Linked DNA regions of Homo sapiens. The protein of the gene in region 2 purifies or fractionates together with the protein of the main gene of each other region. This does not show direct contact. Each region holds a gene or a part of one and is shown on either strand. Other genes may lie near its edges. The genes, in order: PBLD and PLEKHS1.

The links.
Region 1: the proteins of PLEKHS1 (region 2) and PBLD purify together in Homo sapiens (affinity purification with mass spectrometry; 2 studies listed by BioGRID and IntAct, with this or other methods). This does not show direct contact.

What each region holds. Positions count from the first base shown.
Region 1 is NC_000010.11:68,287,929-68,294,928, forward strand, and holds part of PBLD (phenazine biosynthesis-like domain-containing protein), read right to left. Parts: intron 4,311-7,000; coding exon 4,201-4,310; intron 4,112-4,200; coding exon 4,082-4,111; intron 1,150-4,081; coding exon of another isoform or gene 1,092-1,149; coding exon 1,003-1,091; intron 734-1,002; coding exon 555-733; intron 1-554.
Region 2 is NC_000010.11:113,752,581-113,763,722, reverse strand, and holds part of PLEKHS1 (pleckstrin homology domain-containing family S member 1), read right to left. Parts: intron 8,465-11,142; 5' UTR 8,446-8,464; coding exon 8,418-8,445; exon of another isoform or gene 8,318-8,417; intron 1-8,317.

The DNA.
Region 1 (7,000 bases), about 45 Mb from region 2:
CGCCTGTAGTTCCAGCTACTGGGGAGGCCAAGGCAGGAGAATCACTTGAACCTGGGAGGCTGAGGTTGCAGTGAGCCGGGATCATGCCACTCCGTTCTAGCCTGGGTGATGAAGTGAGACTATGTCTCAAAAAGATATAATAATACAATATAATAGCTAGTAGTTATTGGGCACTTACTAGGTGCCAGGCACTGTATTAAGCCCTTAACATGCATTGTGCTTTTATAGCCCTATGAGGTATTATATACAATTTATAGAGGAGGGAACTGAGACTTTTAAAAGTCAAGTCACTTGCCCAAGGTCAAAAGCTAGGAAGCTAGGAATGTAAACCCAGGCTGTCTGACACTCAGGTTTAACCCTGTTATCCACCTGCTCTATTTTATGTTTTTCATGGAAGACTTCAGTGAAGGGATGGCAGGGATGGGGAAAGATAGAGGAACAAGGCAGCTCAAAACTCAAGCCACCTGAAAGGTCACAGGAAGTGCACTTAAATAACTATTTGTGATCCTCCTCTTCCATTGTTTAACCCTCCCCTGGGCTCAAGTAAAAAGTACCTGTCACTGGGTCTTCAGCCACACCAACCCACGGTGCAAAATATCTTGAGTAAAAGTCAAATGCTTGGGTCTGCCCACCAGGCTCTCCTTTAAGGGTAAGAATAAGCCCTTTCACCTTCCCTGTGTTTTCAACTTGCAGCAGATTCTCCGTGTTCACTTTCAGGTTCTCCAGAAACGACCTTGTTCATAAACAAGATGGATTAGGACAAACCCATTTCACAGCCCACTCACCACACAGACTCTGTGAAGCAGGCCAGGGTGCAGCTTGCTCAAAGAGCTTAACAGGAGGGGAAGGAAGAACAAGTGGGAATGTCTTCCTATCAGGGAAAGAAACACTCTGGCTGCGTAAATCATGGTTTGACTGGACACAGCACAGCCAGACTAAGGAAGAGCTATAAATCTGGGTACTCAGCCCTCCCCAAAGTGCTGATGCAGCCAAAAATCTTACCTGTTGTAAACGTCACTGAGGCGGACGAGGAGCTTTTGGGTATCTGGAGAATAACAGATGTCCTGGACCAGTGTGTTGCCTATGGCAGTCTGTGGAGACAGACCAAAAACTCCTCAGGGACATGCCCTGGGCCAAGTCCTTGATCCCCTGAAATGGGAAATGACCTCTCATTGAGCATCCACTGTGAGCCAAGCATGCCCATCGTCTCCAGTCCCCAAGAGTGTTAGTGCAGTTTCAGAGCTTAAGGTGTTGCCCAAGGATGGTCAGTCTCCTGGCTACCAAAGAGGCCTCTGTGAGCCTCAAAACAGGCATTGTGGCCAGGTGCAGTGGCTCACACCTGTAATCCCAGCACTTTGGGAGGCTGAGGTAGGTGGATCACCTGAGGTCAGGAGCTCGAGACCAGGCTGGCCAGCATGGCAAAACCCCATCTCTACTAAAATACAAAAATTAGTCGGGCATGGTGGTGCACTCCTGTAATCTCAGCTACTCGGGAGGCTGAGGCAAGAGAATCACTTGAACCTGGTGAACCAAGAATCACTTGTGAGCCAAGAATCACTTGGCCGAGATCGCACCACTGCACTCCAGCCTGAGAGACAGAATGAGACTCTGTCTCAAAAAAGAAAAAAAACATAGGCATTCTCACAAGTGCCTACTATGTGCCTCAATGCACAACTCCTTCAAGTAGGTATTCTCCCCACAGAGAAGGAGAAAGAGACTTAGAAAGGCCAAAGATCACACACACACACACACACACACACACACATATCTTGACCCAGGTCTGAGAAGGTCAGAGAAAAAGCTCTAAATCCCTACTGTCCATCATCTTTAGAGATGGAGGGGCCTCATGTCCACCTCTTAGAGCTGTGAGGATTAAATAAAATCGTATATGTGGAGTATCTGCAGCAGCAATTAGAACGTTCCACACGGCAAGCACTCAGGGCTAGCAGCTTGATTGGAAGGAGGGACTAGAGGGCTCGTCCTGTGCTGCTCTGCTTGGCAAGCACACCACTTTCACTCAGATTGTATGTGACAGATCAATAACATAACATGTTCTCAAGATACCCTGGTTCACTCTACCTGACTGCACATAATCTTGCTGAAATCCAGGAACATCATTTGTTTGTATGTTTGTTTGAGGGTGGCTTGGGGCAGAGGGGGATTATGAGGAGACAACCCCTTCCCACACCACCAAGTCATCCTTTGGCACCAGCCCCAGCTGCCAGGCCCAGCAGATGGTAATTACATGGTAATTGTATGGCAGTCACTAGGTGGCTTCAGGTTCTCTAATCCTTGTTAGAGGCCAAGATACTCCAGTTCCCACATCCAGAATTCCTTCTGCCTTGGGTGGTACTTGGGCTTTCTGCCTCTGTGACTATGGGCTGACCAATGTAACTTCCTCAAGAAATGGGAACTCCTACAGCCGGATCCCATCTGTTCTCCAGAGCCTTAGTCTCTCGAACCCAGCCCTTATCTGCATGAGTTTGTACATTGATTTAAAAGTTCAGGGGTGGGCGCGGTGGCTCACACCTGTAATCCCAGCTCTTTGGGAGGCCGAGGCAGGCGGATCACCTGAGCTCAGGAGTTCGAGACCAGCCTGACCAACATGGAGACACCCCGTCTCCACTAAAAATACAAAATTAGCCAGGCATGGTGGCGCATGCCTGTAATCTCAGCTACTTGCGAGGCTGAGGCAGGAGAATTGCTAGAACCCAGGAGGTGAAGGTTGTGGTGAGCCAAGATCACACCATTGCACTCCAACCTGGGCAACAAGAGCAAACTCCGTCTCAAATAAAAAAAAAGGTTTAATTCTTGGCTGGGAATCTTACTGCCAGTTTCTAGGGAAGAACACAAAATGGCAATACTTACAACCCTTTGTTATCCCATTTAATAAATGCTGACCCTGAGACTAAGTTGAGTTCTTTCTACCATGAACAAGGTCTACCATTATAAGTTTTTTCCACTTTCTTACCAGTATGTTTAAAGCAGTTTGTTTTTAAATTTGGCTTGTCTCCAAAACCCAAGCCATGGATGGGGTTGAGTATAAAATCAGAATCCATCATGCTTATTTGTTTATATTCTTTGAAAACACAGATAAAGCCAAATACTAGAGACTACAAATGCTGTAGTTAAAAATTCACTGAGAAATACCCAAGTAGTACTCACAATAGACTAAGCTACAGAATCATTTTTCTCATGACAGCCCTTGCCCTGGTCCTGACCTGGGCCCTCTCTTCTCTACACACCAAGCCCCTGGTCATCCAGGGCTGCTCTGGCCCTGCAGAACCTTCATGGGACAACTGCAGTGCCTACCTTACTGAGAAACATTGAGAATTAAATGGACAATGCAAGTGAAATGCTCAGCATGTGGCACTGCACACAGAGAGACTCTCAAAATGTTTCATCATCATTAATATTATTAAGCCCCATGCCCACACAGACCCCATGAGGAGCCCATGTTCTGTATCTTGTCTTATCTGCAAGGTACTCATGCTTTCTTGGTTTCCTCTATCAAAGCACAGCCCTCCCCCACCTCAGTCCCATCCTTTACTACAGAAACTGGGGACACTGACAGCTGCCAGGAAGGTTCCATTTTTTCCCTCCATCTTGTGTGTATGGATTTTATGGAATGACCTCTTTCTGCCAGAAATTCCCAACTTTCACACCTGAACTTGCACAGCCATGCTCGGGGCCCATTCCTCTCCTTCTAGCTAGAGAAGCACAGAAATTCAACATCCCTTAATTTCCCTAAAGGCTGGTCTCCTCCCAGAAACTTACATTTCCTTAAGACATCCTATTCTCCCTCTTCTTTACCACCTCCATTGGTTCTTTTGTGCCTTTCAGCCTGTCATATAACAGTGTCTCTTCCCTCCATCCTACCATGGGGGCCAGCAGTGACAATCAGGAGCCAAGGAAAACTGGTCAACCTTCTCACCAAATAGACTGAATATTAAAATTCAAACCTGAAACACTGTAACATTTATATTGGTAAAATGCCTATCTTTGTGGATCAAATGATACCAAATCTTTGTGTGCAAACAATAACAAATAACTAGGCTCAGGTTTGATTCTTTTTACCAACCTTTATCAAGTCCTCTACTTCATGGAAGTCCTAGATGGGGGGAAAAAAAACAAAATTATTATAAAACAGGAGAGCTGTCGGTTGTAGATGGCTTAGGGCAATAATTACAAAGAGCTGACCTGGGGGTGGGCTGGATAAAGAGGCAAGTCCAGGACGATGCCATCCTCTGCTCGTCTGGCCCTTAGTTCTCCACTCAGAGTGACAAACGTGAGCGTGCTATTCATGTTTTCTGGCCAAAATAGGAATCAAGAAATAGGAAATAAACTTTGTCATATATGCGCATGTCCATTTCAAACACCTTTGCATTGTCTTAGATTTTCTGGCACTGTCATCCTTTTCTATGATGGAGCGAGGTTTGGGTTGCTGAGGTCTAGAATGGAGAAAACTCTCACTAGATTCTAACTTGAGAACCAAGAACATAACTGATCAGATGTGGCGTCATACTTCAAGGCTTCAGATCCCAGCTCTTTACTGCTTACTGTGCCCTTACTAACTTAGCCTCCTTTTTTTTTTTTCTTGAGACATGGTCTCACTGTGTTGCCCAGGCTGGAGTGCAGTGGCACGATCTCAGCTCACTGTACCCTCTGCCTCCCACATTCAAGTGATTCTCCCACCTCAGCCTCCCAAGAAGCTGGAATTACAGGTGTGCACCATCACATCCAGCTAATTTTTGTATTTTTAGTAGAGACGAGGTTTTATCATGTTGGTCAGGCTGGTCTCAAACTCCTGACCTCAAGTGATACACCCACCTCGGCCTCCCAAAATGCTGGGATTACAGGCGTGAGCCACCACACCTGGCCAGCCTCCTTAAATCTCAGTTTCCTCATCTATAAAATGAGGTTAATACATTAAACCTACCATTTATAATGTTTTCTCTTTCTTTGAGGAACTGTCTCACTCTGTTGACCAGGCTGGGGACTGGCTCACTGCAGCCTTGACCTCCTGAGCTCAAGCAATCCTCCCACCTCAGCCTCCCCAGTAGCTGGGACTACAGGCATGAGCCATAATGCCTGGATAATTTTTAAATATTTTGTAAAGACAGGGTCTCACTATGTTGCTCAGGCTGGTCTCTAAGTTCTAGACTGAAGCAATCCTCCCGCCTTGGCTCCCAAAGTGTTGGGATTACAGGCATGAACCACTGCACCCAGCCTGTAATGTTTCTAATACAGATTTTAAAATATCCAGCAGCAACAACCATAGAGTCATAACCTCTTCTAGTCTAAGATACGCCAAGGGAATAACAAAACATTTAAGTTGTAAATATCAGTGTTATATGAAATAAATTTGGTTTATCCTAAATGAACCAAACTTTTTACATAACAATGTAATTTAAAGAATGCACCACAAATGTTGGCATCCCATGTTACTGATACAACTTGGGCTACTTATCAGTGTGTATAACATTTTTAGTGAAAACAAAGAATGCTGACCCAATTCTTTTCTCTCCCTTAATATTTCTGTAAAACTTAAACCACATGTCAAAGGTGAAGAACTTTGGCTTGTTAACTTTTATTGAGCATAAAATTGACATTCAGAAACACAAAGCTTAATTTTTCTCATTACGATTTGCATAAGACATTATTTACAAAGCATTTTTTCATACCTTATCTTATCTAACCTGAAGACTGCCCTATGGGGGTTTCCAGGATGTTATTATTCCAAACCTCAGCATCAAACCAACCCACGTGGAGTCCAGTTTTCAAAAGACACTCAATCTTGCTTTGGGAGGCCGAGGCGGGTGGTTCACCCGAAGTCAGGAGTTTGAGACCAGCTTGGCCAACATGGTAAAACCCCATCTCTACTAAAAATACAAAAATTAGCCAGGCGTGGTGGCAGGCACCTGTAATCCCAGCTACTTGGGAGGCTGAGGCAGGAAAATCACTTAAACACAGGAGGCAGAGGTTGCAGTGAGCCAAGATCTTGCCATTGCACTCCAGCCTGGGTGACAAGAGCAAAACTCCATCTCAAAAAAACAAAAACAAAAAAACAAAAGACACTCAATTTAATTTCAGTAAACCCTATTTTTCAAGACTCAATTCCTAAACATTTCGGAATGTTTGCTTGCCTTTTGCACATGTCCCCTATCCACAGATACCAAAATCATCTTTTTAAAATGTATATTGAATTACATTATATGGCTTCTCAACTTTATCTCCTGCCAATCATATAGACAGGCCCCAGGGACTTTGCACTTGTTAGCCTCTGCCTGGGATGCTCCTCCTCTCGCTCTAGCTCATCCCACAGATGCTTCATCTTATCCTTTCGCCCAAAGTTCCCCTTCTCTGGTGGGTGCTGATCCATATTCTATGTCTGACCCATGGCCTCAGGACTGGGACTCCATGAGGCAAGGAAGTACCATAGGGTACAAAATGTAAGGAGACACCTGCTCTCAGCTGCAACCTGGGGCCTTGCTGGCTCTGCCTACACCTGGCCCTGACCCTGCTTGCCCAGAGTGCTAGTGGCCAACAGCTCTCAACTGAGTCACTCTCTTGGAGTTACCTTTGGCTGAGTAGAGCTACCTTGCCCAAAGTCATACATCTTTTCCAGGCTTTGGGAACTGGTCCATGGAGGGTAAAAAGGCCTGAATCTTTGCCTCTACTTGGAACTATACTACTTGAAAAAATGTCCAGCTTTAGAGCTCCCCACGGATTTGGCCTAGGCCTTTCCTTGTTGCTACTACTCTGCAGTTCAATTTCTCCCTCTATTCAATCCTACTTTCTTTTTCTTCTTTTCCTCGAGGTGGAGTCTCGCTCTGTCGCCCAGGCTGGAGTGCAATGGCACAATCTCGGCTCACTGCAACCACGGCCTCCCAGGTTCAAGCGATTCTCCTGCCTTAGCCTCCTGAGTAGCTGGGACTACCGGCGCCCGCCACCATGCTCAGCTAATTTTTGTATTTTTAGTAGAGACGGGGTTTTGCCC
Region 2 (11,142 bases):
AAAATGGAAATACGCTTTTGTAAAGTTCTTTTATTATATGTGAATTGGTATACTATCACTTGAAGTTAGACTGTGATGTGTATAAACCCTAAAGCAATCACTAAAATAACAAAACAGAAAGTAATGACTAATAAGCCAACAAAGGAGATAAAATGGATTCATAAAAAATTCGATTATTCCAAAAGAAGGCAGAAAAGGGGGAAAGGGAGAACAAACAACAAATAGGACAAACAGAAAATAAATAACAATATGATACATTTAAACCTGACTATATCAGTAATTATGTTAAACGTAAATGGTCTAAACACCTCAATTAAAAAACAGAGATGACCAGATTGGATAAAAAAGCAAGACTCAACTCTATGCTGCCTGTAAGAAACACACTTTAAAGATGAAGATACAAGTGGGTTACAAGGAAATAACTGGAAAAAAAGATATGCTATGCCAACGCTAGTCAAAGAAAGCTGGAGTGCCTATATTAACATCAATGTAGATTTTAAAGCAAATAATATTACCAAGGACAAAGAATATCATTTCATAATAAAGGGATGAATTAATCCTAAGAGGACATAAAAATTTAAACATATATGCCCTTATAACATAGCTTCAAAATACATGAAGCAAAAACTGATAGAACTGCATGAATAAATGGACACATCCGCAATTATAGAGATTTCAATATCCCTCTCTCAAGAACTGATAGAACAAATAGTGCTAAAATTGATTTTTTAAATTTTGGATGCATTTTTAATGTTTTAAATAATAAGTTTGCTAAGAGTTTTCATTCAAGAAGAGTAATGCTGGCCTCATAGAATGAGTAGAGAAATATTCCCTTCTCTTCAATTTTGTAGAAAATCAGCAAGAATACAGTAGGCTTGAACAACACTACCAACCAACTTTAACTGATTGATATTTATAGAACATTCCACTCAATGACAATAGAGTATACATTCTTCTCAAGGGCACATGCAACATTTATTAATATAGATGTATTCTGGGCCATAAAACAAGTCTCAATAAATTTAAAAGCATTCAAATCATATAAATCATGTTTTCAGAGCACTATGAAATCAAATTATAAATCAATAACAGACCTCTTAAAAGATCCTGAAATAAATAATCTCTAAATTTAAAAAATCCCAAAAATAAATTAGAAAGTTTTTTGAACTGGATGAAAATTAAAACACAAGGTATCAGAATTTGTGGATGCCACTAAAGCAGTACTTAGGGAAAAATTTTTTAATGGCTATGTTAGAAATGGCCATGTTTGAAAAGAACAAAAGTCTCAAATTAATTACCTCAGCTTCCACCTGAAACGTTTCAGGAAACTAAACTGAAAAAAAAAAAAAAAAAAAAAGGAACAAATCTAAAGTCAATAGAGGAAGGGAGATAATAAAGATAAAAGTGGAATTCAATGAAAGAGAACACAGAAAAACAACAGAGACAACCAATGAAACCAAAGTTAATCCATTAAAAAGATTAAGTTAACAAACCTCTACCTAGGCAGATAGACCAGAAAAACTGGAGAGAAAACACAATTTGCCAATATTAGGAGGAGAGAGGGGACATATCTACAGAGTCTACTGATATTAAAAGGATAATAAAGAAATATTATAGACAACTTTATTCCAATAAATTTGGCAACTTAGGTAAACTGAAAAATTCCTTGAACTACACCAACAAAGGTCACTGAAGAAGAAATAGATAACCTGAATAGCCTCCTATAGTTATTAAAGAAATTGGAGTTGTAGTTAAAAATTCTTCATATAGGCCCAAGTGGCTGTACTGTTCTCTTTGATCAAACATGTAAGCAAGAAATAATCAATTCTACACAAAGCCTCCCAAAAAAATTGAAGAGAAGGGAATATTTCTCAACTCATTCTATGAGGCTAGCATTACTCTTCTTGATTGAAAACTCTTAGCAAACTTATTTAAAACATTAAAAAATGCATCCAAAATAAGTAAAAATAAATAAAACATCCAAATGGAAAAGAATGAAATAAAATCATTTCTATTTGCAAGTGACATAATCTCATATGTTAAAAATCCCAAAGAATCCCCAAAAACTACTAGAGCTAATAAATTCAGCAGTATTCAAGAACAACAGACAAAAATTAGCTATATTTCTATAAACCAGCAATAAATAATCCAAAAATAAAATTATGAAAACAGTTCCATTTACAATAGCATCCAAAAGAAAAAAGTACCTAGGGTTAAATTTAACTAGGCAGATAAAAAGACTGGTACACTGCAAACTAGAAAAATTGCTGAAATAAAGAGACATAAATTAATGGGAAAACATTCCATATTTATGAATTGAAAGACTTAATACTGTTAAGATATAAATACTACCTAAAGCAATCTATAAATTCAATGCAATCTCTATTAAAATCCCAATGGCATTTTTTATCTTGTAAAACTAGAAAAGCTAATCCTCAAAATCATCAAAAATACCAAGGGGCCCTGAATATCCAAAATAATCTTCAAGAAGAACAAAGAGTACACACACTTCCCAATTTCAAAACTTACTACAAAGCTACAATAATCAAGAGTGTCGTTTTGGTATAAGGACAGATAAGACACATAGGCCAATGGAATAGAATTCAGAGTCCAGAAACAAACCCATACATTAGTGGTCACGGCCATTCAATGGGGAGAGAACAGTCTTTTCAATAAATGGTGCTGGGCCAACTGAGTATTCACATGCAAAAGAATGAATTTGGACCCCTATGTCATCCCAAATAATGAAGTTAACTCAAATAAATGACCTTAACATGAGAGCTAAAACCATAAAACTTTTAGTAGAAAACATAGGTGTAAATTTTTATAATCTTGGATTTGACAATGTATTCTTAGATATGATACCAAAAGCACAAGCAACAAACAAAAAAGATAAACTAGACTTCATCAAAATTAAAAACTTTTGTGCATCAAAGGATATTATTAAGAAAGTGAAAAGACTACCTACAGAATGGGATAAAATATTCAAAAATCATATATCTGACCAGGGCCTACTATCCAGAATATATAAAGAACTCTTACAATGCAACACAAAAAGACAAACAACTCAACTAAAAAGTGAACAAAGAACTTGAACAGACATTCTTCTAAAGAAAATAAGCAAATAGCCAATAAGCACAAGAAAAGCTGTGCAATACATTTAGTCATTAAGGAAATGTAGATCAAAATTAAAATAAGAAACCACTTCATGCTCACTAGGATGGCTATAACTTTTTTCTTTTTTTTTTGAGATGTAGCCCAGGTTGGTCTGGAACTCATGTGCTCAAGCAATACTACTGCCTTGGCCTCCCAAAGTACTGGGATTATAGGCGTGAGCCACCACACCTGGCCCATTCTACTCTTAAGTAAAGGAATATACAAATACAAAAGCTGGTCATGAATGTTGATAGCAGCTTTATTTGTAATAGCCAAAGACTGGAAGCAACCCTGATGTTCATCAACAGGTGAAAGGATTAACACATTGTGATACATCTATACAATGGAATACTATATGGGAATAAAAAGAAACAAACTATTGACAGATGCAACGACATGGGTAAATCTCAAGATAATTATGCTGAGTGAAAAAGATGTCAGACAGAAAGTGTTCATACTGCATGATTATATAAAGTTCTATACAAACTAACATATAGGGATAGAAAGCAGATCAGGGGTTGTCTGGGGAAGTATGACTGCATGGAAGAGTGGGAGGCAGGGGACCAAGAAAACTTGTGAGGTTGATGAATATGCTTATTATCCTGATTTAGGTGATAATTTTATGGCTGTGTACATTTGCCAAAACTTATTAAATTGTAGACTTTAAACATGTCAGCCTACTGTATGTCAATTATACCTCAATAAAGCTTTTTAAAAAATCTAACAAATTTGAATGAAAAGTAAGCATACTCCAACCATATGACCCAGCCATTTTGATTCTAGGTAAAATAAAGAAATATATGATTTTACAAAAATTAATGCACAAATGTTCATATTAGCTTTATAATAGGCGAAGACTGGAAGCAACCTGGATATTCAACAGGTGAATGAATCAACAAATTGTAGTACATCCATATAATGGAATACTACTCATCAAAAAAATGAACTATTTTTGCACTATTGGTGCACTCAATACCAGGGATATATTTTTAAAAAATTATGCTGAGTGAAAAAAGTCAGACAAAAGGGTGTATGCTGTATGATTCCATTTATGTTAAACTCTAATAAATACAAACAAACTTACAGTGAGAGAAAACAGAACAATGGGGACTGGGATTGGGTGTGCAGAAAAGGATTACAAACAGGCACAAGAAAACATCAAGAGTGATGAGTGTGTTTACTATTACCCAGGCTGGAGTGCAGTGGTATGATCTTGGCTCACTGCAACCTCTGCCTCCCAGTTCAGGTGATTCTCTTGCCTCAGCCTCCTGAGTAGCTGGGATTACAGGTGCCGGCCATCACACCTGGCTAATATTTGTATTTTTAGTAGAGATGGGGCTTCACCATGTTGGCCAGGCTGGTCTTGAACTCCTGACCTCAAGTGATCTGCCCACCTCAGCCTTCCAAAGTGCTAGGATTACAGGCGTGAGCCACCGCACCCGGCCACATTTACCATCTTGATGATTTCCCAGGTGTCACACATATCAAATACAGGCAGACCTCATTTTGTTGCACTTCACTTTATTGTGCTTTGCATATATTGCTTTTTTTTTTATTTACAAATTGAAGGTTTATGGCAACCCTGCACTGAGCAAGTCTACTGGGACCATTTTTTCAAGAGCATATGCTTACTTAGTGTCTCTGTGTCACATTTTGGCAATTCTTGCAATATCTCAAACATTTTCATCATCATCATATCTATTAGAGTGACCAGCAATGAGTGATCTTTGAGTAATTGTTTTGGGACAGTATGAATGGTGCCCATATAAGATGGTGAACTTCAAAAATGTTGTGTGTGTTCTGATTGCTCCACTGACTGGCTATTCCCCCATCTCTCTCCTCTCCTTGGACCTCCCTATTCAATGAGACTCAACAATATTGAAATTAGGCCAATTAATAACTTTACAATGGCCTCTAAGTGAAGGCGAGTGTCAAGTGAAAGGTGAGTTACATGTCTCTCACTTTCAATTAAAAGCTAGAAAATCCTAAGGCCCTTAAGAATTATACTAAATCTACTCTACTTGTGCTCTATCAGTGCAACAACAAAGCCTGGGTGACAGCATATCTGTTTATAACATGGTTTAATGAATATTTCTAGAAGCCCACTGCAGAGACCTGCTACTTAGAAAAAAAAAGATTCCTTTCAAAATATTACTGATCATTGACAATACACCTGGTCACCCAAGAGCTCTGATGGAGATGTACAAGGAGACTAATGCTGTTTACATGCCTGCTAACACAACATCTATTCTGTAGCCCCTAGATCAAGGAGTAATTTCAACTTTTAAGTCTTATTATTTAAGAAATACATTTCATAAGGCTATAGCTGTTGTAGATCGTGATTCCTCTGATGGATCTGGGCAAAGTTAATTGAAAACCTTCTGGAAAGGATTCACCATTCTAGATGTCATAAAAATATTCATGATTCCTAGAAGGAGGTCAAAATATCAACATCAACAGGAGTCTGGAGGAAGTGGATTCCAATACTCCTCGATGACTTTGAGGGGTTCAAAACTTCCTTCAGTGGAGGAAGTCACTGCAGATGTGGTGAAAATAACAAGAGAACTAGAATTAGAAGTGAACCCTGAAGATGTGACTGAATTGCTGCAATCTCATGATCAAACTTCAACAGATGAGGAGCTGCTTCTTACGGGATATGAAAAGAAAGTGTTTTCTTGAGATGGAATCTACAGCTGGTGAACATGCTGTTTATTTTTGAAATCACAATAAAGGATTTAAAATATTACATAAACTTAGTTGATAAATCAGTGTCAGGGTTTGAGAGGATTGATTTCAATTTTGAAAGAAGTTCCACTGTGGATAAAATGTTATCAAACAGCACCACTTGCTACAGAGAAATTTTTCATGAAAGTACAATCAATCGATGTGGTCAACTTCATTGTTGTCTTATTTTAAGAAATTGCCACAGCCAGCGCATCTTCAGCAACAACCTGCCTGATTACTCAGCAGCCGTCAACATCGAGGCAAGACCCTCTGCCAGCAAAAAGATTGTGACTCACTGAAGGCTCAGATAATTGTTAGCAAATCTTAGCAATAAAATATCTTTAATTAAGGTATGCAAATTATTTACTTAGACATAATGCTATTACACACTCGACTACAGTATAGTGTACGCATAGCTTTTATGGAATCCAATAAATTCATGTGACTAGCTTTATTGTGATATTTGCTTGGTTGTATTGGCATGGAAACAAACTTGAAATATCTCTGAGGTGTGCTTGTATATGTTTCATATCAAAACTTCTATCAAATTGTACACTTTAGATATATAATAGCTTATTGTATGCCAATTACAATAAACTACAATAAAGCTATTAAAAATATGGCCAATCAGCCAACAGTGCGGTGCTCATGCCTGTAATCCCAGCACTTTGGGAGGCCAAGGCGGGTGGATCACGAGGTCAGGCGTTCAAGACCAGCCTGGCCACGATGGTGAAACCCTGTATCTACTAAAAACACACAAAAAAATGAGCCAGGCATGGTGGCAGGCGCCTCCTAGCTACTCGGGAGGCTGAGGCAGATAATTGCTTGAACCCGGGAGGCAGAGGTTGCAGTGAGTTGAGATCGCACCACTGCACTCCAGCCTGAGCGACAGAGTGAGACTCCGTCTCAAAAAAAAAAAAAAAAAAAAAGACCAATCTAAAATGTGGATCTGACCATGCCACTTCCATGCTCAAAATGCTTCAACAGTTACTTGTCATACGCGGTCAAGGTCTGGCACAATTTGGCAACACCTTTCTGCAGCCTCATCCTCTATTTTCCCTTCTCCTACCTTATAAGTATATTCTGCTTTGACACATTCTGCTTCTATACCATTTCATTGCTTTGGTCATGCCATTCCTTCTGCTGGAATGTGCTCTTTTTTCTGATTTCTTTAAAATCCCTACTCCTCCTATAGGGTCTAGCTCAAATGCCTTTCCTGTAAAACCTCTCTGGATTCTCATTACTACTTACATGCTTTTTCTTCTTCAGACTCCATAGCATTTGTACTTATTTCATGATTTCCATCACAGCCTAATCTTAATTTCCCAGCACAGTGACTTGCATGTGTTTAAGTTCTTGACAAGAATTTATTTTATTTTTTTGAGACAGAGTCTCGCTCTGTTACCCAGTCTGGAGTGCAGTGGTGCGATCTTGGCTCTCTGCAACCTCTGCCTCCCAGGTTCAAGCGGTTCTCCTGCCTCAGCCTCTTGATTAGCTGGGATTACAGGCGCACCACGCCCAGCAAATTTTTGTATTTTTAATAGAGACGAGGTTTCACCATGTTGGCCAAGCTGGCCTCAAACTCCTGATCTCAAGTGATCCACCTGCCTCAGCCTCCCACCAACAACATTTTAAAACTCTTTGAGGGCAATGACTCTTATTTATTAATCTGTATATCCCCTGCAACATAAAGCACAAAGACTCACTAGTAATAGGTGCTTTGTAAACATTTTTGAGTTGAATTGGATAATTTAACTTCTAAGTGACTTCATCCTAAACTTAGCTTTTCTATCCACTCATCTACAAAGAAGTGTATGAATAAGAGCAAGGATACTTGATACCATACATTGAGCTACCCTCATAATAAGCCCTGGTGACAATGCAGGCACTTCTCTAAGTGTGAGTTTCACGTAAAATTAAGAAAATGTTCTCCAGTCTTTGCTGGCCCATAGTTTGCTATTAACATCATCTTTGGGCAATGAATGGAAAATTTGGCTCATGAAAATCAGAAAATGCTAAACTTCTAGACAGGTAAACTCTTACACAATAATTAATTGAATCCAACAGTTCCTGCTACATTCTCCAAACCAAGAATCATTGTCACAGAATGCCACCCATTATCCCCACCTGGGTTCTGGGGCTGTACATGGTGGCTTATGCCTGTAATCTCAGCACTTTGGGAGGCTGAGAGGTGGGGAATCACCTAGGCCGGGAGTTTGAGACCAGCCTGACCAACATGGAGAAACCCCGTCTCTACTAAAAATACGAAAATTAGGCAGGCATGGTGGCATATGCCTGTAGTGCCAGCTCCTCGGGAGGCTGAGGTTAGAGGATCACTTGAGCTGGCAGGTTGCAGTGAGCTTAGATCGTGCCACTGTACTCCAGCCTACGCAACAGAGCAAGACTGTCTCAAACAAAACAAAACAAAACAACATACACAAAAACCACCAAGTTCTGTATCCTGGTTAGCTTGAAGGAAACCGTGGGGCATTTTCAATAAAAAGATTTCTGCTTCTGCGATTATACCCCTCGGGTACCTGGACTCTTCTGAGGTTTGGGTTCCATGATGGCTGTGTGTCCTCCCCTGTCAAAAGGAAGGGTTAGTGTTAGTCCCCAAACAACACTACGTGTGTTTCATTGACCAGCCACCGCTGGTCAGTGAGTATCAGGATTGTGCTCACGAATGTTGCTGAGATGGGTTGTGAGTCTCCCATTCCCATCCTTTCTTTAGTATTTCCCTCCCTGTTCCTGAGGCTGACGGTAGCTGCAGTAACGGGGACACATCTAAGCAGCTTGTCCTCACACAGTGGGTGGTTCTGCGGAGGTGTTGTTGAGAAGACTGAAGGAGCTTGTCTTCCTGGGATTTTCTCTGTTCTTACTGCTTTGATAAGAGAGCTGGCGGATGGCAACACAAAGGAGAGATAAGAACAGGGCAAAGGGCAGGATGCCATGGAGCCAACGTAGCCGAGAAAGCATCACTGGCTGAGAGGAAGCCCAAGATAAGCCTTTCTCCATGCCCAGGGGCTTGCTTTCTCCAGGGGAAACTTAAGAACAAGGACCGCCAGGCACGGTGGCTCATGCCTGTAATCCCAGCACTTTGGGAGGCTGAGGCGGGTAGATCATGAGGTCAGGAGTTCGAGACCAGCCTGACCAACATGGTGAAACCCCATCTCTACTAAAAATACAAAAATTAGCCGGGTGTGGTGGTGGGCACCTGTAATCCTAGTGCTCGCCTGTAATCCCTCAGGAGGCTGAGGTAGGAGAGTCGCTTGAACCCGGGAGGCGGAGGTTGCAGTGAGCCGAGATCACTCCACTGCACTCCAGCCTGGGCGACAGAGCAAGACTCCTGAGGATAACCTGGAGAAACTGAATCTGAGAGGCAGCATCCTTTCCTGGCCAGCTGCTGGCGATCCTATGACCATCATAGGATGGAGAGAAGGGACTCCCTCAGGGGAAGGGCTGCAGGGCAAGTGAGGTCTTTGAAACCACAAATTTGGTATGACTAACTTTTACCTTAAGTTAGTAAGACTCTCAAAATAGAAGGCCCTGAAAAGGGAGGTGCCCAAGCAGCCCCAAGTAAGATGGGGGAGGAAGCAGAGGCCCTTGACCCTCCTGACCTCTCCCTTTCTTCAACATAAACTCATTCTTCCTTCCTAACATGTAGATGACTTACAGCAATTCTTTAATTACGTGTGTGTATATGCATATACAGAGATGAAAAAATACATATATTCAGGCTGGGTGCAGTGGCTCATGCCTGTAATCCCAGTACTTTGGGAGGTTGAGGTGGGCGGATTGTTTGAGGTCAGGAATTCCAGACCAGCCTGGCCAACATGGCAAAACCCCATCTCTACTAAAAGTACAAAAATTGGCCGAGCGTGGTGGCGGGCACCTGTAATCCCAGCTACTTGGGAGGCTGAGGCAGAAGAATCACATGAACCCAGAAGGCAGAGGTAGTGAGCCGAGATCACATTACTGCACTCCAGCCTGCGTGATAGAGCAAGACTCCATCTCAAATAAAAAAAATATATAATACAAATATATATATATATGTGTTCAGAGATGAAAATCCTAAGATTAAGACAAGTTCTAAGATATGCTTTTGGTGGTTTGTCAGAGCATTTGGAAGCTCTTTGAAGACCAGTGGGATGGCTTTCCTGGACCCTGGAATCATACCTACCCTGCCCCTAGGGAAAGATTTTCTCCCTTGAGGTATCCTGTATAATCACAGTAGTGATCATTTGAACAAATTACAACTTTTCTCGGGCATCTGAAGGCATATGTTGAAGAACCGGTGCCCTTAGCCCTCGCCTGCTGTAGCGGGCACACTCAGCTCTGTGCAATGAGCTATAATGCCTGGGAAAGATGCCAAGCTATTGAGGCCGAAGGCTGTTGTTTCCTGGAAGAGCAATTCTGTGTGAGAAAGAGAACGTAACCTCTTCAAAACCTTGCCCACTCCCCAAAATGCATGGATAATATTTAAAAAATTATCCCTGAGATTTCTTATCAAATCCATGAGGTTCTTTCCAGTTTCAAGGATTTCACTGCCTGAAGAGCTGGGGACAAGCGGTTTTCAACCCATCACCTTTCCCTCTGTCCATGTTTATAGGACTTGGCCACGCCCCCTATGCAGCTGTTAGCCTAATGAGTGATGGCCCTCAAGGATCCAATCGGAGAAATGTGCAGGAGAGATTAGCTGTGGGTGGCATATTTTAAAGCAGTGTTTACTGCAAGCTGTTTTTGAGCTGCTGTTTGTCAAAAAGCCAAAAAATCATTTTAAAAAATATTTCTAAAGCCTTTAAAGTTTATAAAATGCATTTGCATACATTATTTTTTTGTGTTCAGAATGGCTTCATTCTGAGATAGCTCATTTTACAAATGAAAAGCTGCATTTGAGAGAAGACTGAGATGACTTGGACCTAGGTCCCCTGGCAGAACTCCACACAGCACCACATTCATGCTCATGGACACTCCCAAATAACATTTGCCCTCCCTGTGCCCTGTGGATGTCAAAGTGTGCTTTGGAGGACATCTCTGTCCTTCCAGTGTCTGCAAAGGGCTCCAGAGTCATGTGCTGCAACCATTCCTCCTTCATCTCCCCACCCACCGTAAAATGAGAGGACAGATAAGGCAGTAGGGTGTGGTGGTTTAGAGTGTTAGCTCTGGCATCTGGGTTTAAATTTCATCTCCATGAATTATGAGGAATGTGATCTTGGATACTTTATAATACTTCTCTACACCTCCATTTCTTCATCTGTAACA